Linked DNA regions of Homo sapiens. The protein of the gene in region 2 interacts with the protein of the main gene of each other region in a pairwise test. Each region holds a gene or a part of one and is shown on either strand. Other genes may lie near its edges. The genes, in order: ABCA1, SDHB, S100A9 and SDHAF1.

Region 1 (7,761 bases), on a different chromosome or scaffold from region 2:
GCACTCCAGCCTGGGCAACAGAGCAAGACTCGTCTCAAAAAAAAAAAGGAGTAAGCTTTTGTTTAGTCTTCTTTTTGACACCTCTTTAATGCTTGCTAATTCCCTTTTCAACAAAGTAAGAGAAGTCTCATTGTCAGCTGGGGCCTTTGGGAACCAATAGTTTATCTTATACATAGACTGTGAGAAAAATAATTTGTCTTCATCCTAATTATTTTTAAAATTACCTTTCATTTATGATAACTCATATTGGTTTTCCAATTACAGGTCAAATATAAAGTTATTTTAAAATATATTGATGATTACAAAAATTTGAGTCAACTTGAGTGGGCTGAAATGCTACCTATCTCAGAGTTCCAGTGAAAATTAAATGAGATCATATATAAGAAGAACTAGCCCATGCTGTGTTCCATCACCCACGGTCTGGTTGATGGGTAAAATTTCAGTAGGTGAGGAATATGAGCAGAAGATCAAGTGTGAACCAAGGCAAATACATGAGATGGACATGAGATTCCAGAACAATGAGGAGCCAAACAATGCCAGGAAGGGGTTCTTAAAGTAGAAGATGAAAACCTGTAGAGAGAGACTCATTTAACAGGTACCAAACCATACTATATGTTAATCAGTCTGGTGAGAAAACCAGCTATAGTTCCTTCGAGCATGTGTCTTATAATCCAGGACAAAACTATCAAAGTGGGTCACAGTCTTATTTCAAAGAGCCTTGAATGCCAAGCAGAAAGAGATCATTAATGGTGGCAGATTCTTAAAAGTCTTTTGACCTCTGTCCAGCACCTAGTACTTTCCACAGTACATGGTGTTTAACAAACATTTGCTGAACAAATAAATTTGTTTAATAGCACTATAGGTGTATTAGTGCATTTAATTTTCAAATATAAATATGTATTGTTGTTGTTAATATCATATCTTCTTCTTCCTTCTCTCTCACAGTACCAGACAACAGCCTAACCCCAACTAAGGTAAACTCTGCCACCAAACATGCCTGGGAATGGAGAAGGGTCTGCAGGTCAGTGTAAGCTCATCAGTCTGGGCCTTCACTTTCTCCCTGCCTTTCCAAGGAAAGCTGCTGCTTGCATCAGTGTTGCCTTTATGTCAAAGTGTATCACCTAAATACCAGATCCAACAGATTTCAAGCCACCACCCTCCAAAGACTTGCTTCTTCAAGAAAACAAGCGTGGTTTGACTCTTGTGAAAAACAATTACTCCCAACCTGGCATCCTACAAGAATTTTGCAAAGCAAGGGTGAACAGGGATATGACAACCAAACATCTTCCTAGCAGCTCCTTCCCCCTCCCTGCTCCTGGCCAGAAACCTCTTCTTCCTTTTACTCCTTCTTCTTTCCACTTCTAATTTGTTATGATCTCTCAAACAACAAATTTGGTACAGTGCTTTAGAAAGCTTTGTGTCTTACCGACCTACCCCCAGTGAGGGTCTTCTGAGATACTTCAAACTATCCTCATGAGGTATAGTCCAATTCTCCTCCTAGGATGGGTACTAGCATGCTATTCTTGAAGGATGAATGAGCCTGAAGAGTTGGTTATGGTTTCCTTTCATCACCTATTGGCTTAACAGGAGTCCATTATAAGAAGTAAAACTTAGGCCGGGCACTGTGGCTCACATCTGTAATCCCAGCACTCTGGGAAGCCAAGGTGGGCAGATCACAAGGTCAGGAGTTAAAGACCAGCCTAGCCACCATAGTAAAACCCCGTCTCTATTAAAAAAATACAAAAATTAGCCGGACATGGTGGCATACGCCTGTAGTCCCAGCTACTCAGGAGGTTGAGGCAGGAGAACTGCTTGAATCTGGGAGGCGGAAGTTGCAGTGAGCCGAGATTGCGCCACTGCACTCCAGCCTGGGCAACATAACGAGACTCCATCTCAAAAAAAAAAGCAAAACCTACACCCAAAATGATGTCCGAGATGGAGAGTCCAATTTTATTTTAGAGAGATTTTCCAAATGGTGAGTCAGAAGCAAGAACAGTATCTCACTAAATCATGTTTACTCAACTGAAACTTATTGAATTAAACCAACTCCTCCTTCCTTTGCATTTCAGATGAGAACCCCTTCTGGTTCTATGATTCAAATCTTCATTCACTCAAAGCAGGTAAATAGGAAATTTCAACAGCTTCCTCTCCTCCCTCTCATTCCTTTCTTCTGTCATCGATCTGATCAGGAATGCTCTGAGGCATTCCCTGGTTATTTTTTCTTTACCTCTCAAAATCCACATGGTATGTTACACTAATGCCCAGCATGTTCCTCAGATCTCTAGATGGCTCTAATTAAAGGACCACCCCTTCTTCTGAATACAGACCTGGGGTTAGAGGACATAAGAGCTTGAAGGGCTCTTTAAAAGTCAAGTAGTATCATTTTACAGACCAACAACCTAAAAAACAGAAAAGTAAAATGACTTGTCCAAGGTCACATGGCTTAATGGATTTGTGGGCATTCATGAACACCCTGTAATTACACATAAAATTTGGATTATATGAGCCCATGTGTATTTTTTCTGAAGAGAAAATCCGTATCTTTCTTCAAAGAAGTCAACAATCTCTTCCCCAAAATATAGTAACCACTGACAATTATATGCATATTTGAAAAAAAGTTTAACTAAAATTTAATGTTCCAAGTCTGAATAGTAATATGAATTGGTGATCTAGAATAAGAGTGGAACCTAATTTAATAACTGTCATTGTTATCATCTTTTTTTCTTTTCATGTCTGGGATATCAATGCAAGTAACATGGGATAAAGACAATTTGATGTGGAAGTAAACTATAAAGCAAGATTTTTGTTTTGTTTTGTTTTGTTTTTTTGAGATGGAGTCTCGCTCTGTGCAGTGGCACCATCTCGGCTCACTGCAATCTCTGCCTCCTGGGTTCAAGCGATTCTTCTGCCTAAGCCTCCTGAGTAGCTGGGATTACAGGCTTGCACCACCACGCCCAGCTAATTTTTGTATTTTTAGTAGAGACGGGGTTTCACCATGCTGGTCAGGCTGGTCTCGAACTCCTGACCTCATGATCCGCCCACCTTGGCCTCCCAAAGTGCTGGAATTATAGGCAGAAGCCATCGCGCCCGGCCTAAAGCAAGCTTTTAAAATCACTGAAAACACTCGTATGAATAAATTTCACTATAGGCCAAGCATTATATTATACGGTTCACATTATACACAAACACAAATACCTATTTTACAGATGATGAAACTGAGGCAAAGAGTGATCAGCAACTTGCCTAATGTCAGATATCCATTAGTAATAACCAGAATTCCAATCTACATTAATTTGACTCTGATATCCATGTTCTTTTTCACCAATATTTGCATCTATACTCCAAGATGTCCTAATACTAATATTCTATTTACTTATTTAGAAGAACTAAATCAACTCTCTAAGGTAGCTTCAAGGAAGTCTTTCATAAATGGTTCAACTACTAAAAAGTTCTTCCTGGGAAATATCATAAACTAAATACCAGCTATCACAAAATATCTGGACTTTAAGACTAACCAGATAAAATGTTTTGACTTCCAAATGCTTCTTGGAAGTTGGATTTGGCAGAGAAAACACCGGGGAATTTTAAACAAACACCCCCCAAGAAAAGACTTTATAGAAGAATAGATCCAATGCATATGAAGTTACTGTTTTTTAAAAAAGTGTTTAAATCTCTAAATTACTTAGTGAGTCATGTCACTCTTATTAACAAAAATAAATTAATATACAACTCAAAGTACTTGAATATGGAATGCCACAGACTAGAGCATTTTCTTAAATCACAGCTGCCTCAGAAACGGAAATGAAACTGAGCGAAACTGAAATGTTTGTTCTACAAAAAGTAACCTGGCCTAAATAACTTAAGTATGCACTAAAATTTCTCAGTCTAACATAAACCTAGCCTTAACTACAGTTGTTTCTCATATAACTCTATTTCTAATGCTTTTCTGTGATTACCCTGTTATCTTAAGTAGTCTTTTAGAAGACAGGAAGCAAACATGAGCTTCCCATTCTCCTTGTTGGACTTATTCAAGTCAGCATTTATTAAATTTTTTCCATATTAAGTGGGATGAATTAAGGCCAGGGGAGAATGAATCAAAGACCTTCCTCTAGAGAAGCATACACTCAAGAGGAAGACAAATAAATGTTAACTGTAATTAAAAAACAGAATTAAATACATGATACAAAGAGTGCTGTAATCCAAGTCTAATGGAAGTAAAGAGAAGGGGATCTTACTTTCAACTTAGTGATGGGAAGGAGTGGATCCAGAAGAGCTTCATGAGGAGGGAAGCATTTAAATCGGGTCTTAAAGGAGGTTTGCAAAAGCTAAAGGGTTTTGTACCAACTTTGTTTTCAACATGGGAAAGACAGGATTTCAAACTTTATTTTGTTTTAGGAACCAAATCCAGTGCTCCTCCATTGTTGGAATAAATGCTCTTTGCCTGAATGCTATTTGTGGTCTTCGTAGAATGGAGAGTAACTGAAGGCCCCACCGGAAATCAATTTTATGTAAGCTTTTCATTCTCTGGCCTCAAGTATTTCTAAAATGTACCTTTCTATGCAGGCTACTTATTCAGGCAACTATTTTCAGGTGAAGATACTCAAATGAAAATAGAGAATCCCTTTTGGCCTTTTGCTAATATTTCATTTGTCAAAACTTTGATAGTCTGACAAAGTCTTTACCATGAGATTGGTAAACTCACGGAAGCCAAACTGTCTGGGATGCGACTTCAGCTCCACTACTTACGAACTCCATAATAATGTACCTAGCCTGCCTATACCTCAGTTTCCCATCTATAAAGACAATAAAAGCACCTATTTCACTCATGAGAATGAACTGAGTTATTACACGGAAAACTTAAAAACATATCCAACATACCATAAATCAACAGTAAATGTAACTATTTTTACCAAGAGGTGTCTTCAAAGAGTTTATTTCTAATTCATTACACCAATTAATAAGAAAGGCACTTTCTCATCCTATTTCACTTTTACAAGGCAGACATTTTTTTTCAAGACGGAGTCTCACTCTGTCGCCCAGGTTGGAGTAAAGTGGCACGATCTCGACTCAGTGCAACCTCCGCCTCCCAGGTTCAAGCAATTCTTCTACTTCAGCCTCCCAATCCCAGTAGCTGGGATTACAAGCACCCACCACCACGCCCAGCTAATTTTTGTATTGTTAGTAGAGACGGGGTTTCACCATATTTGCCAGGCTGGTCTTGAACTCCTGACCTCAAGTGATCCTCCTGCTTTGGCCTCCCAAAGTGCTGGGAATACAACAATGAGCCAGTGCACCCAGCCAACAAGGCAGACTTTGAAACTGTGTTTATCTTCCAAAAATACGTATATCTTAAGAAAAAACTAAATTTGATTTCTAAACAGTAACAGCAGTAACAGAGAAATAGCTTATTTCAAAAGGTCCACAACTTCATCAAGGACAGGACAAGCAAGAATCATATTGTATTATAACAAATTTTTACAATTCACCAAAGTTAGGTTTTACAACTAAACTAACAGTTCACTTCTCTTTTTCCTTTGTTTCTTAGGCCCTTACAGCCTAATACTCTATCATTCCATTTTCTATAGATCACATAGGAAAACATTTTGAGATCACACAGCTATTCGCAAACATCTGACTGAAGCAATAGTATAGTTTTCATTATGAACCAAGTAAAAAATTGAGTTGAGTAAATTTTATTCTATTCTTTCCAGGATGTTGCAATCCCTACGCAACCAAGGTTTCAAGTTAAAGAGAATTTGGCTGACCCACTCACAGCAACAAGGAAAATATGATACAGGCTGTAGATTCTGATAAGGATTATAGCAGATGAATGTAGAGAATGTGGTGATCATCCTTGAAAAGCTCCCTGGTTGCAGCAGCTGAAATGTTAGTGCTGGAGTTAAAGAACTCTGGCTGGGTTCAAGTCTTAGCTCTGCCTCTTGCAAGGTATATAGCCAGAGAAAAATTAGCTTCTCATTTACTTAATCTTGTAAACTAGGGACAATAAATGGTTTTGTTGTGAAAATTCAATTAGCATTTGATGACCTGCACAGTGGCTTATGCCTGTAATCCCAGCACTTTGGGAGGCTGATGTGGGAGGATCACTTGAGCCCAGGAGTTCAAGACCAGTCTGAGCAAGATAGTGAGACCTTGTCTTTACAAAAAATTGTAAAAATTTAGCCAGGAGCAGTGGTGCGTGCCTGTGGCCCCAGCTCCTTAAGAGGCTGATGTATGAGGATCACGTGAGCGCAGGAGGCTGAGGTTGCAGTGAGCCTTGTCTGTGCAGCTGCACTCCACCCTGTGCAACAGAGCAAGACCCTATCTCAAAATAAATACAATGAATAAACACGTGAAAAACATTTCAAACAGTACTTGCCACACAGTGCTATATAAGTGTCTATTCAACACTGCAATAACTTTGGCCATTCATGGTTGTATCCACATGCAGATACGAAGATGGTTGCATTTTTTGGAGTAGGCCTTCTCTCAGCATAAACAAAACAAGTGTTCAGAATGATCTTTTAACATTTGATGCTAGAGTAAATGACCATAACAACTACTATAATGGTATTATTTATTTAATATCTGGATACTTAAAAAAATGTATTTGAGGCCAGGTGTGGTGGCTCATGCCTGTAATCCCAGCACTTTGGGAGGCTGAGGCTGGCAGATCACTTGAGGTCAGGAGCTTGAGACCAGCCTGGCCAACATGGTGAAACCCTGTCCCTACTAAAAACACAAAAACTAGCCGGGTGTGGTGGCACGCACCTGTAATCCCAGCTACTCAGGAGGTTGAGGCAGGAGAATCACCTGAACCTGAGAGGCGGAAGTTGCAGTGAGCCAAGATCATTCTACTGCGCTCCAGCCTAGGCAAAAGAGCAAGACTCCATCTCAGAAAAAAAAAAAAAAGAAAAAGTATTTGGTTTTAAAAGTATTTTAGAAATGCAAAAACCACATGCATTTTGATATTTTCTAGACATCTAGATATCTTCATAATTAGAAGAGTCTATCTAAGGTAATGTTCACTTATTCTAGCAGCTAAAAATGAAAACAGTGAAGACCTTAATTTGTAGCCACTACATATATAGCTTAAGTATCCCGGCTTACGGGAGAGAAGATCCCTTTAAAAAAAAAATTTAAATGGAAAAATATCCCAACCAACTCCTCTCCAAAAAGGTAAGTACTACAGAAGATAATAAAAAGCTAAGTCACTGAACTTCTTCAGTTTCATTCATTTTTTTATGTTTACAATGGGACTTCCTTGAGCAGAAGGAACCAATCCTTGAAAACAATCAATTCCTGATCACTCTTTTCCAATCCTGCACTAATGCACTGTCTCACACAAACCGAAAATATGTTCTAAGTCAAAATGTGTCCAGGGGTCGGGCGCGGTGCCTCACGCCTGTAATCCCAGCACTTTGGGAGGCCGAGGCGGGTGGATCAAGAGGTCAGGAAATCGAGACCATCCTGGCCAACATGGTGAAACTCTGTCTCTACTGAAAATGCAAAAACTAGCCAGGCATGGTGGCGTGCGCCTATAGTCCCAGCTACTCAGGAGGCTGAGGCAGGAGAATCTCTTGAACCCAGGAGGTGGAGGTTGCAGTGAGCCATATCGTGCCACTGCACTCCAGCCTGGGAAACAGAGCGAGACTGCATCTCAAAAAAAAAAAAAATGTGCCCAGGGTCCATTATAGGCCTGCACTCGTAGAAATACGAGGGTTGAGATTTCAAATGCTCATCTGCAGGGGAGACAACATATCA
Region 2 (7,761 bases):
TCGGGCTCACAACCACAAGGAACTGCATTCCACCAATAGCGCAAATGAGCAAAAAATATTTTCCTCTAGGCTCCAGAAAGGAATGCAGCCTGCTGACACCTTGATTTTAGTCTGATGAGACTATACCAGTCTTTTGACCTACAGAACTATAAGATAATACATTTAGGTTGTTTTAAGTCACTAAGTTTGTGGTAATTTGCTCTGACAGAAATAGAAAACTAACACGCCAGTCCAATTTTTAACATTTTAACCACATCCCTACCTTGTCCATTCAAGGCAAGTTTCTGGCGGTTCTGTTATTATTATAGAAAACACAGGTCCAGATGTATAAGATATAATCAATACATTCAGCATTAAAAAAATGGTAATATATTAAATGACTTTAAATACTGTGCATAAAGTTAATTATACCAGTATTTCTAGAAATTTGTCATACTTTCATTTGGGAATTATTTTGGTATTATTCTTCTGAATCAGGTAACAACCTCATTTTTTTTTTTTTTTTGGAGACAGAGTCTCACTCTGTTGCCCAGGCTGGAGTGCAATGGCATGATCTCAGCTCACTGCAACCTCTGCCTCCTGGGTTCAAGCAATTTTTGTGCCCCAGCCTCCTGAGTGGCTGGGATTACAGGCATGAGCCACTATACCCAGCTAATTTCTGTATTTTTAGTAGAGAGGGGAGTTTCACCATGTTGGCCACATTGGTCTTGAACTCCCAACCTCAGATGATCTGCCCGCCTGAGCCTCCCAAAGTGCTGGGATTATAGGCGTGAGCCACCGTGCCCGGCCCAAGCTCATTCTTGTTTTAAAAACAGAGCCATCGGATGATCTCAGATTTTTAAGCCTTCCAAGGATGTGAAAAGCATGTCCCTAAATCAAATCAAGAACTCTCCTTCAATAGCTGGCTTTCACAGAGATACTCACTTATTAAGGTCAACTTCATAAGTCTGCATATGAGGTTTGTCTCCAGCCTTGTCTGGGTCCCATCGATAGATGGCAAATTTCTTGATACGGGGAGCTGTGGCTGCAGCTGTCTGGGCTCCTCGGGAGGCCTGAAATTTTTTAAAGTTCACAAAAAGGAAAAAAAAATTAGAAATACAAGATAATTCCATTTTGCTGGCACAACAGATGTAACGCTGGATATAAACTCACACATTACTGACACATAATCTTCTTAGAAAAGGCAGGCATTCAATATCCAACAAGTATTAAGCACCTATCATATGCTAATATATCAGACATGGTATTAGGGGCTAGTGACACAGCACTTAATACACAAAAACCTTCATCTTCACAGAACTTACTTTGTAGTGAACAAGAGTTAAATTAAACATTCACGATGAATATAAAGAGCGATACTGTTGGGAAAGTACAGGGAGCTCTGGATGAATACAGCAGAGACTTCAATGAGTGAAGAGTCAGAGAAGGCTTCCTCACATGTCATCTAAGTGGAGGCTTGACAAACCAGAATTAAGGGGAAGGAGTGTGGGGTGTGGTCTGAGGGTGGTGGCTCATGCCTGCAGTCTCAGCACTTTGGGAGGCAGAAGTGAGAGAATTGCTTGAGCCCATGAGTTTGAGAGCAGTCTGGGAAACATGGCAAAACCCCATCTCTACAAAAAATAAAAAAATTAGCTGGGTGTCGTAGTGTGCGTCTCAGGAGGCAGAAGTGGGAGGACTGCTTGGGCCCGAGAGGTTGAGGCTGCAGTGAGCCAAGATCATGCCACTGCACTCTAGCCTGGGCAACAGAGTGAGACTCTTTTTCAAAAATACAAAATAAAAAAGAAAAAAAGAAAGAAAAGACTATACTCCAGGACTGCTAATTTTTAAAATAAACTGATATAGAAAAGTAAAAACTCGGAAGGTTAATTGACTAATTACAAAAAGATGCAGTGGTGTTTATTACTGAGGCAGGAGAACAGGGTTTAGAGACAGGGAGTCTTCACTACAGCCTCTGATTCGTCTCGGGCCAAGTCTTCATTTGCATAGGGTGTAACTAATAGGAAACCCGTACAGGGTACTTTAATCCCAGAAGACTGTGCAGCTGGGGCTCTTGAACCACTTGCTCAATCCCACTCCTACTCTATGGAGTGTACTTTCATTTCAATAAATCTATGCTTTCGTCTTCTGTTGCTTTGCTTGTGTGTTTTGTCCAATTTTTTGTTCAACATGCTAAAAACCTTGACGACTTGTGGTCAAGACCGTCTACCAGTAACATTATTTCTTGGTAAAGTGTCCCGTATTAACTGAAGCTGAAAATACAAACATCAGCTAACAGTAGAAAAGAAGAAAATATATGAAGAAAATGAAAGTTAAGATGAAAGCTATGTTTTACCTTATCACCAAGCTGGCTAAAATCATCAACAAAAGGAAAGCCATTTCTACAAATGTTTTTCACCGGGAACCCCATTTTGTAAACTGACATGAACATCTAATGCCACCTTGTGGTATTTGGGAGGAAGTGAGAGGAAAGATTCCTGAAGGTATCAACTCCAGTGGACTTTGCTTGCTTAATGTCCCATTTTTTTTTTGGTCTTTTTTCTGTGAGATTTAATAAGGTATAATTCATTATAATAAAATTCACTAATTTTAAGGGTATAATGAGTTTTGACAAAGCAATGTAATCCTACCACAATTACAACAGAGTATTTCCATCCAAAAAGGTCTTTTGTGCCCTTGATGGCAAACATAAGTCCCCTTTTCCTACCCTTAGCAACTGATCAGCTATCATCACGAGTCTGCCTTTTACAGAATTCATATAAATGGCATCATACGGTACGTAGTCTCATGTCTAGCTTCTTTCACTCAACATAATGCTTCTGAGATTCATATGTTACTGCATATAACCATAGTTAAATGCTTTTTTAAAAAATTAAACTATTTATTTATTTATTTATCTTTGAGACTGAGTTTTGCTCTTGTTGCCCAGGCTGGAGTGCAATGGTGCAATCTTGGCTCACCACAACCTCCGCCTCCCCGGTTCAAGCAATTCTCCTGCCTCAGTCTCCCGAGTAGCTGGGATTACAGGCATGTGCTACCAGGCCCGGCTAATTTTGTATTTTTAGTAGAGATGTGGTTTGTCTATGTTGGTCAGGGTAGTCTCAAACTCCCAACCTCAGGTGATCTGCCTGCCTTGGCCTCCCAAACTGCTAGGATTACAGGCGTGAGCCACCGTGCCTGGCCAACCTTTTTATTTTTTAATAATTATAGATTCATATGCATTTATAGAAAATAATACTGAGGCCAGGTGCAGTGGCTCACACCTGTATCCCAGTACTTTGGGAGGCCAAGACAGACGAATCACTTGAGGTCAGGAGTTCAAGACCAGCCTGGCCAACATGGTGAAACTCCGTCTCTACTAAAGATACAAAAATTAGCCCGGTGTGGTGGCACATGTCTGTAATCCCAGCTACTCGGGAGGCAGAGGCAGGAGAATCGCTTGACCCTGGGAGACGGAGATTGCAGTGAGCCAAGATTGCGCCACTGCACTCCAGCCTGGGTGACAGAGTGAGACGCTGTTTCAAAGAAACAAAACAAAACAAAAAGAAGAAAATAATACTGAGACTCCACATACTCTTCTCACCTGTAATCCCAGCACTTTGGGAGGCTGAGGTTGGGAAATCACCTGAGATCAGGGATTCAAGACCAGCCCAGCCAACATGGTGAAACCCCGTCCCTACTAAAAATACAAAAAAACGAATTAGCAGGGTGTGGTGGCGTGTGCCTGTAATCCCAGCTACTAGGGAGGCTGAGGCAGGAGAATGGCTTGAACTTGGGAGGTAAAGGTTGCAGTGAGCTAAGACTGTGCCACTGTATACCACCCTGGGTGACAAAGTGAAACTCAAGCTAAAAAAAAAAAAAAAAGAGAGAGAGTTTTGCTCTGTCACTGATTGTGCAGTGGCATGATCACAGCTCACTGCAGCCTCAACCTTCTGGACTCAAGCGATCCTCCCATCTCAGCTTCCCCAGTAGCTAGGACTACAGGCATGCGCCACCATGCCCAGTTAGTTTTTTTACATTTATTTTTGTAGAGATAGGGGTCTCACTGTGTTGCCTAGGCTGGTCTTGAACTCCTGGCCCCAAGTGATCCTCTGCCTGGCCCTCCCGAAGAGTTGGGATATAGGCATGAGCCACCATGCCAGGGCCCACATACTCTTTACCCAGTCTCCCCAACAGGAACATCTTGCAAACTGTAGCACACCAGCACAACCAGAATACTGACAGTGCTAGTCAAGATAGGGGACATTCCCATAAGCACAGGATCACTAACATTGCCCTTTTATAGCCCTGTCCACTTCCTCCCACCCTACCTCCCCTGTACTCCGTAAGCCCTAGCAATCACTAATCTGTTCTCTACTTCTCAAATTCGGTCATTTCAAGAATGTTATATCAATATAATCATCTGGTATGTAGCCTTTTGGAATTGGCTTTTTTTATTCAGCCGAATTCTCCGGAGATTCATCCAAGTTGCTGTGTACAGCAATAGCTTTTTTCTTGTTATAGCTGAGTAGCACTCCAAGGTATCATGTACCACAATTTGCTTAACCATGTAACTACTGAGGGACATTGGGGGTGTTCTAATTTTTGGTGACATGAATAAAGCTGAGATGAACATTTGTGGACAAATTTCTGTGTGAACGTTACATCTTCATTTCTCAGGATAAACACCCAGGTGTGTAATTGTTGGGCTGTATGGTAGCTACAAGTTTAGTTTTTTTTAAGCAACTGACAAAACTATTTTCCAGAGTGGGTGGCTGCTGTGCCTGAGGCAGATAGTAGGGTAAGTGGGACAATATGCCTTTTAAAAAATGGGGCTACTTCAAGTTTTTACTTCTAATTTGGACACTTTTATTTTTCATTTATTTTTTAAAATATTTATTTATTTATTTATTTTGAGATGGGGTCTCACTCTTGTCCCCCAGGCTGGAGTACAATGGCGCGATCTCGGCTCACTGCAACCTCCACCTCCCGACTTCAAGTGATTCTTCTGCCTCAGCCTCCTGAGTAGCTGGGACTACAGGTGCCTGCCACCACGCCGAGCTAATTTTTATATTTTTAGTAGAGACGGGGTTTCACCATGTTGGCCAGGCTGGTCTTGAACTCCTGACCTCAGGTGATCCGCCTGCCTTGGCCTCCCAAAGTGCTGGGATTATAGGTACAGGCCACCTTGCCCGGCCTTTATTTTTTATTTTTATAGACACATGGTCTAGCTTTATTGCCCAGGCTGGAGATCATGGCTCACTGCAGCCTTTAACTCCTGGGCTCAGGCGATCATCCTGACTCAGCCTCCCAAGTAGCTGGGACTATAGGTGCACACCATCATGTCCAGCTAATTTTTGTAGAGACAGGGTCTTGCCATGTTGGCTAAGCTGGTATGGAATTTCTGGGCTTAAGCAATCCTCCCATCTCAGCCTCCCAAAGTGTTGGGATTACAGGTGTGAGCCATTGTGTCTGGCCCTAACTTGGACTTTTTTTTTTCTTTTTTGGAGAGTCTCATTCTGTTGCTCAGGCTGGAGTGCAGTGGCGCGATCTTGGATCGCTGCAACCTCCACCCCTCAGGCTCATGCAATTCTCCTGTCTCAGCCACCCGGGTAGCTGGGATTACAGGCATGTGCCATAAAGTCCAGCTAATTTTTGTATTTTTAGTACAGACAAGGTTTTGCCATTTGGCCAGGCTGGGCTCAAACTCCTGGCCTCAAGTGATCCACCTGCCTCAGCGTTCCAAAGTGTTGGGATTACAGGTGTGAGCAACCGCGCCTGGCCCCTAACCGGGCTTTAAACAGAATCTGGGACTGGAGCATAATCCCCTAGTTCTTTTTTTTTTTTTTTTTTTTTTTTTTTTTTGTGAGACAGTCTCACTCTGTCACCCAGGCTGGAGTGGAGTGGCGAGATCTCTCTGCCTCCTGGGTTCAAGCAATTCTCCTGCCTCAGCCTCCCAAGTAGCTGGGATTACAGGCGCGTGTCACACGCCCGGCTAACTTTTTTGTATTTTTAGTAGGGATGGGGTTTCACCGTTTTAGCCAGGATGGTCTTGAACTCCTGATGTCGTGATCCACCTGCCTCAGCCTCCCAAAGTGCTGGATTACATACAGGTGTGAGCCACTGTGCCAGGCATAACCCCCTAGTTCTAAAGCCTGATTTAGTATTGTCAGTGGGCAACAGGCATTAGGCTCTATCAAGCTGGGTATCAGAACCACAAGGCCTGTGGGATGACTGTGGTTACCTGCAATGAGGTTTTCCCTTCAACATTTCTTTATAACATTTAAATATCTGTTTCATATCCACTCTACACGGATAATTGATCACGTATTATCTTTCCAAAAGAGACTAAGTTTGTATTAGAGCTAATTTAAATTTTTAAAAAGTCTTATCATATGAATGATGTGAAATAAGAGCAATGCCAGGATGTACTACACTGAATATCTAAGTCGACATATCCCAACATCAGTTTTGGAGTGCCCCAAAATGTCATCATTTTTTTTTTTTCAGTACAACTAATTTAAATTTGTTTTGTGTCAAAAATGTATTTTATAGGCCAGGCGTGGTGGCTCATGCCTGTAATCCCAGTACTTTGGGAGGCCGAGGCAGGTGGATTACCTGAGGTCAGGAGTTCGAGATCAGCCTGGCCAACACGGTGAAACCCCGTCTCTACTAAAAATACAAAAAAATTAGACAGGCACGATGGCGGGCACCTGTAATCTCAGCTACTTGGGAGGCCGAGGCAGGAGAATTGCTTGAAATCCGGGAGGCGGAGGGTACGGTGAGCCAAGATTCCGCCACTGCACTCCATCCTGGGCAACAACGTGAGCGTGACTCTGTCTCAAAAAAAAAAAAAAATGTATTTCATACAATATTTGGTGGGGCAAAGGGGGTTTACCAGAATGAAAGAAGATTCTGAAATCAAAATCACCAGAGTGGTCATGGTTCTGAAAGTGATAGAGCTTTGCTCATCTTGAGGTCTGTACAAAGAGTTAATTCTCAGGATTATGTTATCTGTGTTCCACCAAAAAATTCGTTGAATACATATATCTAAAAATTTGCCAGATTTCATTCATCGAACCTTTATAATCTGTCACACACGGTGCCAAATAATCTCTAATCTTTATAACATCTCTATGAAAAATGTTTTGTTGTTCCCAGTTAAAAGACGAGGATAGGATCATATAGCAACACAGGTCACTTGATTCAAAAATCCAACCTTTTAGCCATTATAACCAGTGGTGAAAACGCAAACATAAAACGCAACAGTGCAAAAAGATAATTCCATTTCACAATGAGATCCAAGGAACAAAAGAAGTTGTTGCTCTAATCATACAATGAGACTATATGATTTTTTTCCCCTTGTTACCTGCCCAGCAATTTATACTACAAATCCAAAAGGAAAGAGGGCCCCTTGAAAGCATTTTTACGTTAATCTAAAGACTAATGAGTATTCAAGGCAGAAAGTACATTCCTAGGAAATCTTGGATAGTATGAATTTCATAGTTTATAATTTAAGCAAGGTAAGCAACAACTGAACTGAGAAGGGTGAATTCTGAATGGTGCTGAAGGCTGGTTGTTGTTCCTCCAGTAAAGTGTCCTTAGGGTGCAGGCTTGGAGTTGGATGGAGTGGATAAAGATTTGGAGGCCAGAGAAGAAGGTGGGGAAATAGAGAGGAAGAAAGCAAAAAGGACTGTATGAAGATAAGCCTGAGTAAAATACAAGGTGCAGGCTTGCTGAAAAGTGTGATTGGTGATGCTTGAAATCCAAGCTCTATCACTTACA
Region 3 (7,612 bases), about 140 Mb from region 2:
GGAGGTGAGCCCAAGGGGCCCAGCACAGACCCATGTTTTGCTGCTTCTCATTTTGTTAATACTGAATGAGGGGGCTGAGTCACAGATAAGGACAGGGCTGTCTAATGCCCAGAGCCCTGGGAAGGCAGGGTTGGAGAAGAGGTGGAAGAAGCACACAGAGCACTGACTTGGAGGAAGAGACTTTATTTGGCCCCAGCCCCTAGCCCCACAGCCAAGACAGTTTGACATAACAGGCCCCGGGGCCCTGGTTGGGTAGAGGCAGGGTGGCCTGGCCTCCTGATTAGTGGCTGTGGCCGTGGCCACCATGACTGTGGCCGTGGCCGTGGCCACTGTGATCTTGGCCACTGTGGTCTTAGGGGGTGCCCTCCCCGAGGCCTGGCTTATGGTGGTGGCCAGGGCCCTCGTCACCCTCGTGCATCTTCTCGTGGGAGGCCCAGGTTAGCCTCGCCATCAGCATGATGAACTCCTCGAAGCTCAGCTGCTTGTCTGCATTTGTGTCCAGGTCCTCCATGATGTGTTCTATGACCTTTTCATTCTTATTCTCCTTCTGCGGGTGGGGAGAGAAGGCTGTGAGAGCTGGGTGTGGCCAGAGGTGGGGACTGGGAGCACAGTAAATGACCAGCTGGCAAATGTACAAGGGAAGCCTCACCCTGGGGCTGGATTTAAAAATTAAAAATGACCATAGGCTGAGTGCGCACAATGGAGCAGACACTGAGCACATACCAAACGCTCTCCAGTTTATTCCCTCCATGACCCTGTGACTTGGGTGCTGATTCTCTATTTATAGAAGAGGAAGCTGAGTTCCAGGGTCTTGCCCTGGTCATGGCATGAGTAAGCCTGGAAATGTCACCTCATTTGGTCCTTATAACAACTTTAACAGCTAGGAATGGTATCTTCCTGGAGGAAGACTTGAAACCAGTCCTAGAGAGGGTCATTAGTTTTCACAGCTTGACTATTGAGGGCATGCAAATTCAGATCTGACTTAGAGGCCAGTTCCACTCTGCTACCCCTCTGCACTTCACTCCTTCCCCTGCCCTCCCTTCCCTTCCCTCTGGAGGTTACCAATTAGTGAAACTTATTTCAACCAATACAACGGGGAAACACCTAGAAAAACTAGGTGTGGGCAGGGGAGATGGAGGGTCAGAGAGCAGAGTATGTGCTCCGCTGACCTCAAGGGTGTGATAAAGTATAAAAGGGGAGATGGTCGGACAGGGTGGCTCATGCTTGTAATCCCAGCACTTTGGGAGGCCGAGGCAGGCAGATCACCTAAGGTCAAGAGTTCGAGACCAGCCTGACCAACATGGAGAAACCTTGTCTCTACAAAAAATAACAAAATTAGCCAGGCATGGTGGTGCATGCCTGTAATCCCAGCTATTCTGGAGGCTGAAGCAGGAGAATCGCTTGAACCCAGGAGGTGGAGGTTGTGGTGAGCCGAGATTGTGCCGTTGCACTCCAGCCTGGGCAATAAGAGCGAAACTCTGTCTCAAAAAAAAAAAAAAAAAAAAAAAAAGGAGAGACATCAGGGGAGGTGGAAGACCCAGACCCAGGCGGGGTCCAAGAGAGCACTGGTTGGTTCCAGCTCTGCCACCCTCTGGCTGAGTCACCTCGCTAAGTCCCCTCCCAGAACCTGTGGGGTACCCAGCCAATGCGAGCACTCTCCTGTGCAGCCCATCCATGAGGCTCTGCTTCCTTTCCCACAGCATCGCTTTGCTTCTGGTGGGGGATGTCAGGTGGGGGGTGAAGCGGGCATAGGGGGTCACATGGAGGATAGTTTTGCCATGCGGCCTCTCTGCTGGGCCCTTTCTTGCCTACCCCACCCAGCATCCTGCCTGCCTGAGGCCTCCACCTATGGAGAGCTGTCAGGGCCCCTAACTCTGAAGGCTGCAATTCTCCACCTTACCAAGGCGGAGGGAGGGGCACTGGGAGGGCTGGGGACCTACCCCAGGATGTCTGGCTCCGGGACTGGAACTGAGACTGAGACCCATGTGTTCCACCCTTCTTAATGCAGGCCTCTGTTTCCCGACTTTCCCCAAATTTGAAAAGAAAACAAAAAGGCTGTTGGAAGTGCTCAGCCTTTTTCTTAGAACTGCCTAATCATTTTTGGAGCGGGGGAAAAACCTCCCAGTTCCCTGAGTGCTGTGCAGGTGCTCTCCATGTGCTCTTTATGCATTCATTTTCCACCGCAGACCCTTAGGATTAGAAAAGCCCCCAAGTCTTCCACCCCAAGTTCCCGCCTGAGGCTTAGGGTCTCCTCAGCTTTGTGCCAAGTGTCATCCTCAGGGGCTTCCCTCCCCAACATTCGGGGCTCAGCTCAAATGTTACCTCCTCAAAGAGGCCCTTCTCATGTACCCTAACTGGTCACCTCCACCCCACCCAGCCCCATTGCCCACAGCGCACTCTATCTCATTTTCTTCCAGGCACTTATTGGCATTTGGCTTTATCTGTGCTCTTTATTGGCCAACAACTTTACTGTGTGTCTCCCTCCACTGGAATAGTGGGCTCCCCATTTACCACTACATCCCTCTGCCCAGAACAGGGCCCGACAAATAGCAGGTGTTCAATTGAGCAATTTCTTGACCCTGTCGTCCTGTGTAACTGTGAGCACCTGCCCTGTATAACAGGACACTCGCTGCGTCTTGGGGCTGGGCTCCAGGAGCTCAAATCTTCCCCTTGATTGCTGTAGCCCATACTCCCATCCTCCCTTGTCAACCCAAACTGCGGTGAGGCTGGGTCAGACCTGCCAGAGTCCAGCCCTACCTTGAGAAAATTTTGCAGATCTTTTCGCACCAGCTCTTTGAATTCCCCCTGGTTCAGGGTGTCTGGGTGCCCCAGCTTCACAGAGTATTGGTGGAAGGTGTTGATGATGGTCTCTATGTTGCGTTCCAGCTGCGACATTTTGCAAGTCATCGTCTTGCACTCTGTCTGTGTAATGGAAAACCAAGAGTTGGGACACTTAGAAGAAAATGCTGTCAAGCTTCTTTGACACTTCCTACTAAGCACTCACAGAAATAGTGGGGGAAGTGCAAAATAAAAAGAAAGCACAGGCTGCAACTTAACTGGGAGATGGCCTGTCACACACATGTACAAAATGATTTTTTAGAATATCTACAGAGTGCCAAAAAGCAAAGCATTTGAGGGCAGGAGGCCCCAGGGGAACATGACCTAAGAAAATGTGAAAGAAGCTTTAAAGTAGGCAGGGCCAACCAAGGAGGGCTTCTAGGAGGAGGATTTGGAAGGAAGTTGGGTCAGGGAAGGAAAGAAGGAATCGGCAGGCAGGCTTCTGCCTGGGGAAGCTGGCAGCTCACTTACCAAAGCCGAGGAGCCACACAGAGTGTTTGCCAGAGCTGTGCAGGCTCGGCATTTATAGGCAGCTCCTGACTGGGGCACTTGGCCCTTTGGCCCTGTCTCCGGAAGATTGCTTCACAGGTGAGCAGTGTGGTAATGCTGCCAGGAAGGGGGCTGGGGCGGGGCAGGAAATGTTCACAGAGCGCCTTCTGCTTTTTTGTGAAATTCCCAGCCCTGGCCTGAAACTGGTTTGGGAGGAAGCTGGTTGTTTAGTTCATTTCCCTTCTATCCTAAGGCCCTACTCTCCCCGAGCGAGCCTGCTGCTCCTCTGGCACCACTCAGCCCCCCATCCCCTTTGAGGTTGAAGCAGGCTGAGGACCTATGGGGGCCTGACCCTCTCGGCTGCCCCCCATGGGCAGTCTGCCCCTTCCTTTTAGTCCAACAAGGATGGTCTGAGCTCTCACCCATGCTTGCCTGGCTCTGTGATACTTAGGATGGCGAGGGGTTGGTGTTCTTAGATTCATAGGGTGAGATTTGGGGTTAGAAGGGTTCTCAGAGGTGGGCAACCCTCTTGCATTGTAGATGAAGAAACTGACACCCGGAGATGGACCTGAGCAAGGTCACATAGCTGGTTGCTGACTTGGCAGGAAGGGGACCCAGCTATTCTGGTTCCTGGTTAAGGGCAATTCTGATGATACCTTCCTCTTGCAGTCTGAGTGAGAGAGCCTCAGGGCGAATATGTTTCTAGCATCTCTCAGCATCATTTTTCTAAATCCTGCTCCCAGCAAGGGTTCCAGGAACTTATAACTTGGGAGACAACTGTTTTTACTTAGCCTCCTGGTGGGCAAGATGTGTCCTTCTCCTGCTACGAACCTCCAGTTGCTCCCCATTGCCTATGGAGAAAGCTTGGCTTAGCCCTGCGCACAAAGCCCTCTTGGAATGGCCCTGCCTGTCCGGCCAGCTTCCCTTTCACTACCTCCCTGCCCACTGTGGGAACACAGGGCCCACCTCCCACCTTGCCACCCCAGGAGTGCCCTTCCCCTACTCCACAGTGATATCCTGCCCGCCCCCACGGCTCAGTTCTAATGCACTCTCTTCCAAGGAGACTGCTCTGTGCTTCCCATTTGGAAACAGTTTCTGTCTTCCTGACTATGATTCTCATACCACTTCTGGCTCTCAACACTTGCTTTCCTGGAGTAAAATTATATACATATTTTGCCTCTGTCCAACAATTGGCTGTAGATCCTCAAAGGTAGGTTCTCATTCATGTTCTCCTTCTCCTATGCACACAGCCCGGGGCTTGGCAAGAGAGACACCCTCGGATTTGCTGATTGATCCTTGCTGAAGTCCTTGCTGGCATCCTTTCCCGTCACCCCTGGAAGCCAGTATGGATGATCCACCCTGGGACTCCCTCTTGCTTGCTGCCCCCTCTCTCTATCAGGAAAGATGGTTCTCTTCTTCTACCTGCACTGGTTATTTTGTTCTGTCTCCATGAAGCCTTCCTTTATTGCCCCAGCCCCTCCTGACTGCTTTGTCCTCTGAAAGCCTGAGGCAATCTCTGTGTGTGCTAAGCATTGGCCCTAAGCATGGCCTGCCTCACACTGCTGAGATGCACCTGGAGTAGTGGTTAAGACTTCAGACTGTCTGTGTGACCTTAGGCAGTTTACTTAACTTCTCTGTGCCTTACTTTTCTTATCAATAAAATAGGATAATATCAGGACTTACCTTGAGGATTGCGACAATACATGGAAAGTTGGGAAGAGCTCAGTAAATAAAAGGTATTATTACTAATAATCTTTTCATTCATTTATGCAACAAATATTTGTTGAGCACCTACTGAGTGCCAGATATGAATGCTAGATGCTGGGAGAACTTGATGAGTGAGTCGCAATACAAAGGGGAGACATAATCTTATATCCTGTCTTCCAAATTACGTTTTAAACTCTTGGTAGCTAAGGACAGGGCTTGGCACAGTGCTAAGCACACAGCAAGCATCTAATAAATAAATGAGTGCTTGAATACATGAGTCGCCTACGAATGAATGAACGGTGCAGACACAGCTCAGGAATACATGAGGTAGATTTCCTATCCAAGTCCACCTTCCATTGTTTAAGCTAATAGAGGAAACCCAGCCAGCAGCCAGCAGCCAGCAGCCAGCAGCCAACCCTGTGTGCCAGTGCAGCCTGTTCTGCAGTCCCTGCACAGCCCCAGGCGCCCTTCCTGTGTGCTCCCATGGCGCCCTCTGCTGCCTCTGACAAAGCACTTCTCACTCAGGACCAAGGATCTCCAACTCACCCTTGCGGGAACCAGACCCAAGGTGAAGCTGGTGGGGCATGAGAACATCAACGGCAGCAGTAGGGCAACTTGTGGCCACTGATATGGGGCCTCAGGGTTGGGGACACTGGACAGTGGTGGCAACTGTGGGGAATGAGAACGTTCCTACCTTGAAGGGACAGCCAGTGTCAGGCCAGGGCTGCCACGTGGGAAAGTAGACCAGATGTTCTTGGACCTCCTGAGGGCCCAGGACATCTGAAGCTTTATATGAAAATTCCTGTTTAATACAATTTGTCCATTAATTTAAAATAAAAACAAAAAAAGCATGACAATGAAGCAGGGTGTGTGTGACTCAAACCCTGAGTGATGGTGTGCGGCAGGCATCTCTGCTTTGTCATGGAGCTCTCAACTTTCAGGTGGACTTTCTGATTCCTCCACACCACTGTGGCTCCTCTAGGCAGGGATGCTGCCTGCTACCCTCCAAAGTCTTAGCACCAGGCAAGGGCTGGCTCAGAGGCACTGGATGAACGCTTGTTGATTGAATAAATTCAGGAGTGCATGAATCAATGATGAAATGAGTGAATGTGACATAAACACTGGCCTGTCACCCTCTGTTCTGTGACTTTCTGCAGAGCCACTGACTGTGGTCATTTAGTGCTGATTCAGAATGAAAGTAAAATAGGGAGTTGGGGGAGAGAAGGCTCAGCAGTGGGTGGGAATGAGCAGCTGGTCAGGGTTTCAAAACAGACGGGAATCTGCACTTGGGGGATCTGATGCTGACAGTGGGCCCCCATCTTAGAAGGCCACTGCAGGCCCCCAGGTTCCAGGCTAGCCCAGGCGCAGGTGAGGCCAGGGCTGAGCCATTCTGGTTCTGACCGGAGCAGACAATTCCTGGCATGATCAGTAGGTGGCCGACACCCACCTGCCTCCTCACTGCCAGCCGAGGCCAGAGGTTGGACTGAGGGATGGTGGGATGGGGGTCTTCCCCTCTGGGTACTGATTTTCCAGGGAAAGTCGGAGCCTTCTGCTAGGGCATGAAGTGGGTGGGCCAATTTTCCTGGCTCTGTACAATGACTCGAGGTTTTCACTGGGAGAAAAGGGTGTGGCTTTTTGGGTTAAAAAACAAATAAGTGGCCGGGCACGGTGGCTCACGCCTGTAATCCCAGCACTTTGGGAGCACGAGGCGGGTGGATCACAAGGTCAGGAGTTCGAGACTAGCATGGCCAACATGGTGAAACCTCCATCTTTACTAAAGATACAAAAAATTAGCCGGGTGTGGTGGTGCGCACCTGTAATCCCAGCTACTCAGGAGGCTGAGGTAGGAGAACCGCTTGAACCTGGGAGGCAGAGGTTGCAGTGAGCCAAGATCGCGCCATTGCACTCTGGCCTGGGTGGCAGGGTGAGACTCCATTTCAAACAAACAAACAACCAAGCAAGTAAACAAACAAGCAGGCAGAGGTTCCTGCAGCTACCATCAAATCACTGTGCTCTTTCCCAGATGCCTGGGACCCACTGCGGGTCTGTCTTTCCCTTCTCTGCAGCTCCCACTGTGGTCTTTCAGGGAGCTTTACCCCTCCTGTGTTGTAATGGGGGTGTTACAGCAGGCACACAGTGGGACCCGGACTGAGGGACTGAGCTGGTTTTAGTCCTTAGCTTTCTCAGACTTGCTGGTGGTCTTTAGAAGTGATTTCCATGTTCGGGCCTCCATTTTCTTATCCATTACATGAGGAGATTGGGACAGCTGACCCTTAGGTCATTTCTAGCACAGATTCCAAGTTTTGATGGACTCTTGGTGGGCTTCATGACTACTACTAGCCTCATGGCCCCTGGACACTGTCTCCTGGCTTACTTGCTCCACCTGCAGGTGAAGTCAGGTCCCTCTCCTCACAGGGACTCTGATGCCTGAGGCCCAGCCCCACTCAGGCTGCGCACAGCCTGCTGCCTATTCCTCCACTCCCTGTCTTCCTCCTTGCTGGGAGTCCCAAGTGCTCTTCCTTGGAGATCTCTGGGTACGGGTCTCCTAACCACAAGCGCCCTAACATCCCCCATTTCC
Region 4 (7,214 bases), on a different chromosome or scaffold from region 2:
GCAACCTCTGCCTCCAGGGTTCAAGCGATTCTCCTGCCTTAGCCTCCTGAGTAGCTGGGATTACAGGTGCCCACCACCACGCCTGGCTAATTTTTGTATTTTTAGTAGAGACGGGGTTTCACCATATTGGCCAGGCTGGTCTGGAACTCCTGACCTCGTGATCCGCCCATCTTGGCCTCCAAAAGTGCTGGGATTACAGGAGTGAGCCACTGCGCCCAGCCTTGGTCTTCTTGCCTAGAAGCCTATCCCGGCAATTAATTCTTCAAACTGCAATTCCACTTTATAACCATTTGGGAATGTGGCTCCCCCACCGGGATTAGGGCAGTGACTGTTTCTCTTCCGTCCATCCTCCCTTTGGTCTGAGGTCTATGCTCCTTACCTGTGGTCCTCCTACCCACAGCTACATCCACAAGAACTCATTTCCACTTATTTAACTGATATGGGTGCAAATATAGCTCAGCGATGCAAAATGCATCCCTCCACAGAATGTCTAGGGCAGGCCCATATGGGGACACCGGAGGGAGTATATCTGTGATCTATGGGGTTCATCTCCCCTCTCCTGCCCCAGGGCCTTGTCGTTCACTGTAGCTGAGGCTGGACCCTTCAGCCAGGTTTGAGAAATTTCCAGGTCTGAGACCCTCACTACTGCCTCAGGGGCTCCGAGCCAGTTCTCAGCTCCACCATTTCCTCTTCCACACAAAGATGTTAAATCACTTGCCCTCCATTAGGGAGCCAACTGGGGTATCTTTGGGGGTTAAGCCAGGATGAGCCCCCTCCACAGATCTGCCCAGGGGAGAAAACTATGCCGCTTCAATCAATGTGCCAGTCTACAGGGCTCCGGAAGGAGTCAGATCCCCACACCTATCACCTCCCAGATGGTCCCTTCCAGGTGTCTGTGTGCGTGTGTGTGTGGTGGCAGGGGGGCTGGGGGTGTTTCAAAAATCCTGAAATATATAAAAGCTTTAAGACCACCAACAGGGAAGTAGACATATCCCCAATTTTATTCCCTTTGTCCAACATTCCGAGAGGGAAGGGGCAAATGAGTCAATGTTGCCCCTCAAAACCATCAAGTAGGGGCCTTTGGGGGTCTTCAGTTGATCAACCAGGGTGATAGACCCCTACCCCTTCCTCATGGTCCTGGCTTGTCACAATTAATGGGGGAAAGTTTTCCAGAAGGGGATTCCGGGCTTCTCACCGCTCATCAGGGCACCTTCCCAAAACGTTCTCAGCAAAAAGTCTGCACTTCTCAGAGTTAAATACAGGAGAGGGGAGACTCCTTGAGGAGCCAGAAGTGGGTATGTTCTCAGGGGTCAAGAGAAGGGCGTCTCAGGCTCTCCCTGTCCACCGGGGGTCGTCCTGGCTCCCCGTACCTTCGGGCAAGTAGCTCTTGGCTTGACACTGTCCAGCCCGCCAGCGTCCCAGGCCGCCCCAAGCCCTCATGGGGGAGGAGCACCGACCTGTCTCCAAGCATCGGAAAAGGCGGGCCTCCCTTGCCGTCCATCACGGGGCTCTCTAGGCCCCCTGCGTCGCCAAGGAGGAGTCTCTGACATCCCCAATTCGTCAAGCTAGTCTCTTAAGACCTCTCACCTTAGGCGGGTTCCCCAGTCCCCCCATGCAGTCAGGCGAGCCTCCTGGCTCCACCACGCCATCGAGCGAGTTCGGCTCTTCGCCTGTCACCGTCCGTCGGGGCGGGTCTCCGGTGCCCCCGTGCTGTCGTGGGGGTTCCTTGGACTGTCGCCGTCGTCAGGCTGGCAACCCACGCCGCCAGGCTCCCCGGTCGGGGCCCGCGGGCGTACGAAGGCGCCCATGGCGGTGGCGTGGCCCGAGCGTAGCAGCTGCAGCTGGCGCCGCCCGCGGCGGTACAGGTACTCGATGCGCAGCACGTCGGACCGCGGCAGGCCCGCATGCTGCCGGAACTCTGCCCGCACTCGCGCCTCGGCGCCCGGCTTCCCACGCCCGGCGCGCAGCAGATCGCGGTACAGGCTCAGAACCTGCCTCTGCAGCCGGCTGTGCCGGCTCATGACCGCGGCTAAGCAGAGACGCTCAGCGAACGACCTGCGAACCGCGGAGCCGCCACACAGCCAGCAAAGGCCAAAGGGCAAAGCCACAGCCACTTCCGCCCAGCGCTTCCCTTGGCCTCCAACTCCCGCCTCCCGCCATCCGGCGCTGCCGCGTCTGACTGGCTGTCGTTGCAGTTACGTAACAGCCGGCTGGGAGAAGTGGGCGGAGTCGCTGGTCGCGGCCTCCCACGTAGGGGACGTGTGTTCTTGAGGGGACAGCAGTTCTGGGGATCCTGGCACCGCCTGGAGGGCGTTATGTGTTCGGACTCCTAGGTCTTGGGTTGGAGGGAACAGAGGGTCCTCACCTAACTCCTGCATTCTGGGAGAAGAGGAAGCTAGGGGTTTTTTTGTGTGTGACGGGGTCTCGCTGTCGCCCAGGCTGGAGTGCAGTGGCGCGATCTTGGCTCACTGCAGCCTCGAACTCCTGGGCCCAAGCGATCCTCCCACCTCAACTCCCCTAGTAGCTGGAACCACAGACGCGCGCAACCGCGCCCGCTATTTATTTATTTATTTATTTATTTATTTATTTATTTATTATTATTATTATTTGCAGAGATGGGTCTCCCTATGTTGCCCAGAATGGCTCGAACTCCTGGGCTCAAACGATTCTCAGCCTCCCAAAGTGTTGGGATTCCAGGCGTGAGCCACCGCGCCCGGCTACCGGTTCGGACTTTGGGTCCCAAGGGCACGGGGCACTGGGAGAGACGCCGGGCACAAGCGTGCTTTTGCCGTCAGTTACTGATTCAAACCATCTTGGGAAGCTCCGTGCGTTCCCTCGTCCGGGGCAGGTCTGTGTCTGGGGTCCCAGCCCTGGGCACGTGCAGAGGGACGAGACCCCGTAGGGAAATGGCTCTCGGCCGGTTGGACAGGCTTCTCGGGCCAGGGGAAGACAAGCAGAGAGAGTGTGGGCGCCAAGCCCCCAGAGGCAGCGTGTGGCTCTAGGAGCTGGGTTGGTCGCGCCCTCTGCGGGTGGGAGTCGGGGCAGTGGACAGCGGTGTTTGGGTCCTTACCGACTGTTAAAGCCCGGAGTCCGGGACACCCTGAACAGTCGACTAGACTGCAACCCCGTTGTCCTCCCAGGAGCTTTAGGTGGTAGGCCGCAATGCCGTTGTTGTCCCCGCGGGCCGCCTGGAGGTGTCCTCGTAGCGCTAGGGAGGCCCGCAAGGACACAGCATCCTCGGGCCCCACCAGCACCGGAGCTTGGGGGACCCCTCCACCCAGCGCGCAACCGCGGCTCTGCACACTTGGGCCGGCAACCAGCTGGGGGGTCCATTCCCCTTCAGAGAGGAGAAGCTGGTCAGGGGCGGGGATTAGGCTTGGAGTCTTGGAGTCAGGGGAGAATCACAAACCACTGTGAATCCTGCCTGGCAGGTGTATGTATCTATCAAAAATACATGTCCTAGAACGGTGGCTCACACCTGTAATTCCAGCACTTTTGGAGGCCGAGGCGGGCGGACCACCTGAGGTCGGGAGATCGACACCAGCCTGATCCACATGGTGAAACTTCTGCCTCTAGGTTCAAGTGATTCTCCCTACCTCAGCCTCCCCAGTAGCTGGAATTACAGGTATGTGCCAGCACACTGGGCTAATTTTTGTATTTTTAGTAGAGGCGGGGTTTCACCATATTGGTGAAACTACAGCCTTGATCTCCTGGGATCAAGCAATCCTCTCGCCTCAACATGTCCAGTGGTTAGGATTACGTGAACATCCCACCACACCCGGCTAATTCTTCTTTTATTGTTTTTTGTAGAGACAGAGTCTCGCTGTGTTGCCCAGGCTTCACTCTGGAATTTTAAATATTTATTTTTTGTTTTGTTTTTAGAGACAGGGTCTTGCTATGTGGCCCAGATTGGTCTTGAACTCCGGCCTCATCCTCCCAAGTAGCTGGGATAATAGGGATGAGCCACCATGCTGGCTTGTACTCTGGAATTTAAACATCTATCTTTTTCCTGTCAAATGACCCTTAATCTCCAAGACAACTATGTCAATCAGCCTAGGGGGACTTTCTTTACTTTCCAGTGGACTCAAGGAGCTGCAAAACCTCAAAGGGAATACTATTGCCTCCTGCCCAGGGCCTGTCAATGGTTTTCTGGTTACAGTCTCTCAGTTTGTCTTTGGGGAACTGGCCCACTCTTATTCTAGGGGATTTCCTGGGTAATATCCCTGCCCTCTGGCTCTGGCTACAGCTCTGTTACATGCCCAGGCCTGGCTACTTAGAGACAAATCAGAATATCCCATCCCCTGACCCCTGTAATTGTTTAGGGATGGGCAAATGACCTCCACTGGGACAATGAGAATCAGACCCGGGACTTCTGTTGAAACTGTGAAGAAAGAAGTGCTGTCTCCCCACTGGGACTGCTAGACTGTACATCATCAACCTGGAGCAGTGGGAGATCACTTCCCGCAGGCAGAGGGGTAGTTTGAAAATGAGGCTGTGGCAGTCTCAGATACCCATTCTCCATTTCTTTCCTAGAATTAGCATTTTTTTTTTTGATATGGAATCTCGCTCTGTCACCCAGGCTGGAGTGCAGTGGCGTGATCTCCATTCACTGCAACCTCTGCCTCCCGGGTTCAAGCGATTCTCCTGCCTCGGCCTTCTGAGTAGCTGGGACTACAGGGATGCGCCACCACATCCGGCTAATTTTTGTATTTTTAGTAGAGACGAGTTTTCGCCATATTGGCCAGGCTAGTCTAGAACTCCTGACCTCAAGTGATCCGCCTGCTTCGGCCTCCCAAAGTACTGGGATTACAGGTGTGAGCCACCATGCCTGGCCTTTTTTCTTTGTCTTTTCCTTTTTTTTTTTTTTTTTTGAGATAGGGTCTTGCTCTGTTGCCCAGGCTGGAGTGCAGGGGCATGCTTGTGACTCACTGAAGCCTCAAATTCCCAGGATCAAGTGATCTTCCCACCTCAGTGGCCTAGAACTATAGGCGCTCACCACCATGCCTGGCTAATTTTTGTATTTCTTATAAAAACAAGGTTTCACCATGTTGCCCAGGTTGTTCTCAAATTCCTAGGCTCAAGTGATCCTCCCACCTCGGCTTCCCAGAGTGCTGGAATTACAGGCATGAGCCACCGCACTTGGCCAAATTAGAATCTTTAGCTGCACACATGGCCACTTAGCTAAAGATACATCTTCCAGCCCCCTTTGCAGCCAGATGGGGCCCTTCCATAAAGTTTGGCCACTGGGAAGTGAATGGATGTGATGTGTGCAATTTCTGGGTTTTGTCCTTAAAGGGAGGAGGCCTGGCCTCTTTGTGCCCTCTTTTCTCCTTCCAACTTGCAGGAATGTAGCTGCGGTGAGGAAGAGATGAGGGCAATACCACAGGGGAGGCAGAGCCACGTGACAGATGGAGCCTGTGTTGGAGGAAGCAAACTGGTTATACTTGGACTGCCTGTGAGAGATAATTAAGCTTCTATCAAGTTTAAGCCACTGTAGGCTGAGCGTATTGCTCACGCCTGTAATCCTAGCACATTGGGAGGCTGAGGTTGGGAGGATTGCTTGCACCCAGGAGTTCAGGACCAGCCGGGACAACACAACAAGACCTTGTCTCTACAAAAAAAAAAAAAAAAAAAAAAAAAAAAAAAATTGGCCAGGCATGGTGGCACATAACTGTAGTCCTAGCTACTTGGGAGGCTGAGGTGTCGGGATTGCTTGAGTCCAGGAGGTCAAGGCTGTAGTGAGCTATGATCACGCCACTGCATTCCAGCCTGGGTGACAGAGTGAGACCCTCTCTCTAAAAACAAACAAAAAGCTTAAGCCACTGTAATTTTGAGCTTTTGTTCTACCATATGGACCTGGAGCCTAATTACTATAGAAGCTAACGCAGAAAAAGGAAAAGGCGAGGATGAAAGATGGAAAGAAACTAAGTTCTTAGCAACATCATTTGAGTCCTTGAACCAGCCAGACCTGAAGGCCTCATCTTTACAGATAAGTAAAAGCAGACAAATTCTCGTCTGTATTTAAGACAGCTGGCATCATTTTCTGTCATTTACAACTGAAAATGCTGACTGATATACTGGTGATTCAGGGAACATCTTATGATGAGGTTTGGGAGACTTGTCCTCACCTTCCAGGCCTGGAGATCCCTCTCACCAGAAGGTAGCATTCATTGTGGAAGCAGCCACAGTGGTCCTGGGACACACAGTCTGTGCCATCAATGGTGAGGCCACGTTCATAGCTCTCATAGCATCGGGAGGAACAGTGAGCGGGGTTGGCAGGCAGGACACACCCCAAATCATAGGTCTGTGCACAGATGCTGTAATGGCCTTGGGGTGGGCAGGTCTGTGCTGCAGGCAGTTGGCAAAGATAAATGCCTAGGGCTCAAATTTCTTTTCTTCTTCTTCCTTCTTCTTCCTCCTTCTTCCTCCTTCTTCCTCCTTCTTCCTCCTTCTTCCTCCTTCTTCCTCCTTCCTCCTTCCTCCTCCTTCTCCTAGTCCTTCTCCTCCTCCGTCTTCTTCTTCTTCCTTCTTTTTCCTTCTTCCTTCTTCTTCCTTCTTTTCCCTTCTTCCTTCTTCTTCCTTCTTCCTTTCTTCTTCTTCTTTTTTTTTTTGAGATGGAGTCTCCCTCTGTCTCCCAGGCTCGAGTGCAGTGGTGTGATCTCCATTCACTGCAACCTCCACCTCCAGGTTCAAGCAATTCTCCACCCTCAGCCTCTCAAGTAGCTGGGACTACAGGTGTGTGCCACCACACCCGGCTAATTTTTGTATTTTTAGTAGAGACACTGTTTTACTATGTTGGCCAGGCTGGTTTTGAACTCCTGACCTCAGGTGATCCACCCACCTCAGCCTCCCAAAGTGCTGGGATTACAGGCAGGAACCATCGCGCCCAGCCTCAAATTCCTCTTTCCAATCTCATCGCCTCTGCCCCTAGTCAGCCTGGCTTCCCATTGGTATTTCCCCACCTCCACACCTTTGTAGCTGCAGTTCCCTTTCCCTTGGATCCTCTTCCCACACATTCTCCTCCACCAATTCCACCTATGCTAGGAATTCTTCCTGGACTCCCACCAGGGGAAGGGGCTCTTCCAGCCAACCCATAGTCTGCCCTGCCTGCACCCCAGACCAAGCCAGAGCACTTATGGCAATGCTTGGGGCCCCTCCAGGGCATCACAGGGTTCCCAGGCTCCTGGCTGCTGCAGTATGGCCTGTGAGAGTGT

The links.
Region 1: the proteins of SDHB (region 2) and ABCA1 interact in a two-hybrid assay, tested with the Homo sapiens proteins (one study listed by BioGRID).
Region 3: the proteins of SDHB (region 2) and S100A9 interact in a two-hybrid assay, tested with the Homo sapiens proteins (one study listed by IntAct).
Region 4: the proteins of SDHB (region 2) and SDHAF1 interact in binary tests that used the Homo sapiens proteins (3 or more experiments, as listed by UniProt).

What each region holds. Positions count from the first base shown.
Region 1 is NC_000009.12:104,917,717-104,925,477, forward strand, and holds part of ABCA1 (phospholipid-transporting ATPase ABCA1), read right to left. Parts: intron 4,827-7,761; exon of another isoform or gene 4,396-4,826; intron 2,121-4,395; exon of another isoform or gene 2,070-2,120; intron 1,022-2,069; exon of another isoform or gene 1-1,021. UniProt on the Homo sapiens protein: Catalyzes the translocation of specific phospholipids from the cytoplasmic to the extracellular/lumenal leaflet of membrane coupled to the hydrolysis of ATP.
Region 2 is NC_000001.11:17,043,837-17,051,597, forward strand, and holds part of SDHB (succinate dehydrogenase [ubiquinone] iron-sulfur subunit, mitochondrial isoform 1 precursor), read right to left. Parts: intron 1,053-7,761; coding exon 925-1,052; intron 1-924. UniProt on the Homo sapiens protein: Iron-sulfur protein (IP) subunit of the succinate dehydrogenase complex (mitochondrial respiratory chain complex II), responsible for transferring electrons from succinate to ubiquinone (coenzyme Q).
Region 3 is NC_000001.11:153,353,579-153,361,190, reverse strand, and holds S100A9 (protein S100-A9), read right to left. Parts: upstream 3,338-7,612; 5' UTR 3,310-3,337; intron 2,923-3,309; 5' UTR 2,908-2,922; coding exon 2,758-2,907; intron 548-2,757; coding exon 353-547; 3' UTR 168-352; downstream 1-167. UniProt on the Homo sapiens protein: S100A9 is a calcium- and zinc-binding protein which plays a prominent role in the regulation of inflammatory processes and immune response.
Region 4 is NC_000019.10:35,990,082-35,997,295, reverse strand, and holds SDHAF1 (succinate dehydrogenase assembly factor 1, mitochondrial), read right to left. Parts: upstream 2,109-7,214; 5' UTR 2,022-2,108; coding exon 1,674-2,021; 3' UTR 984-1,673; downstream 1-983.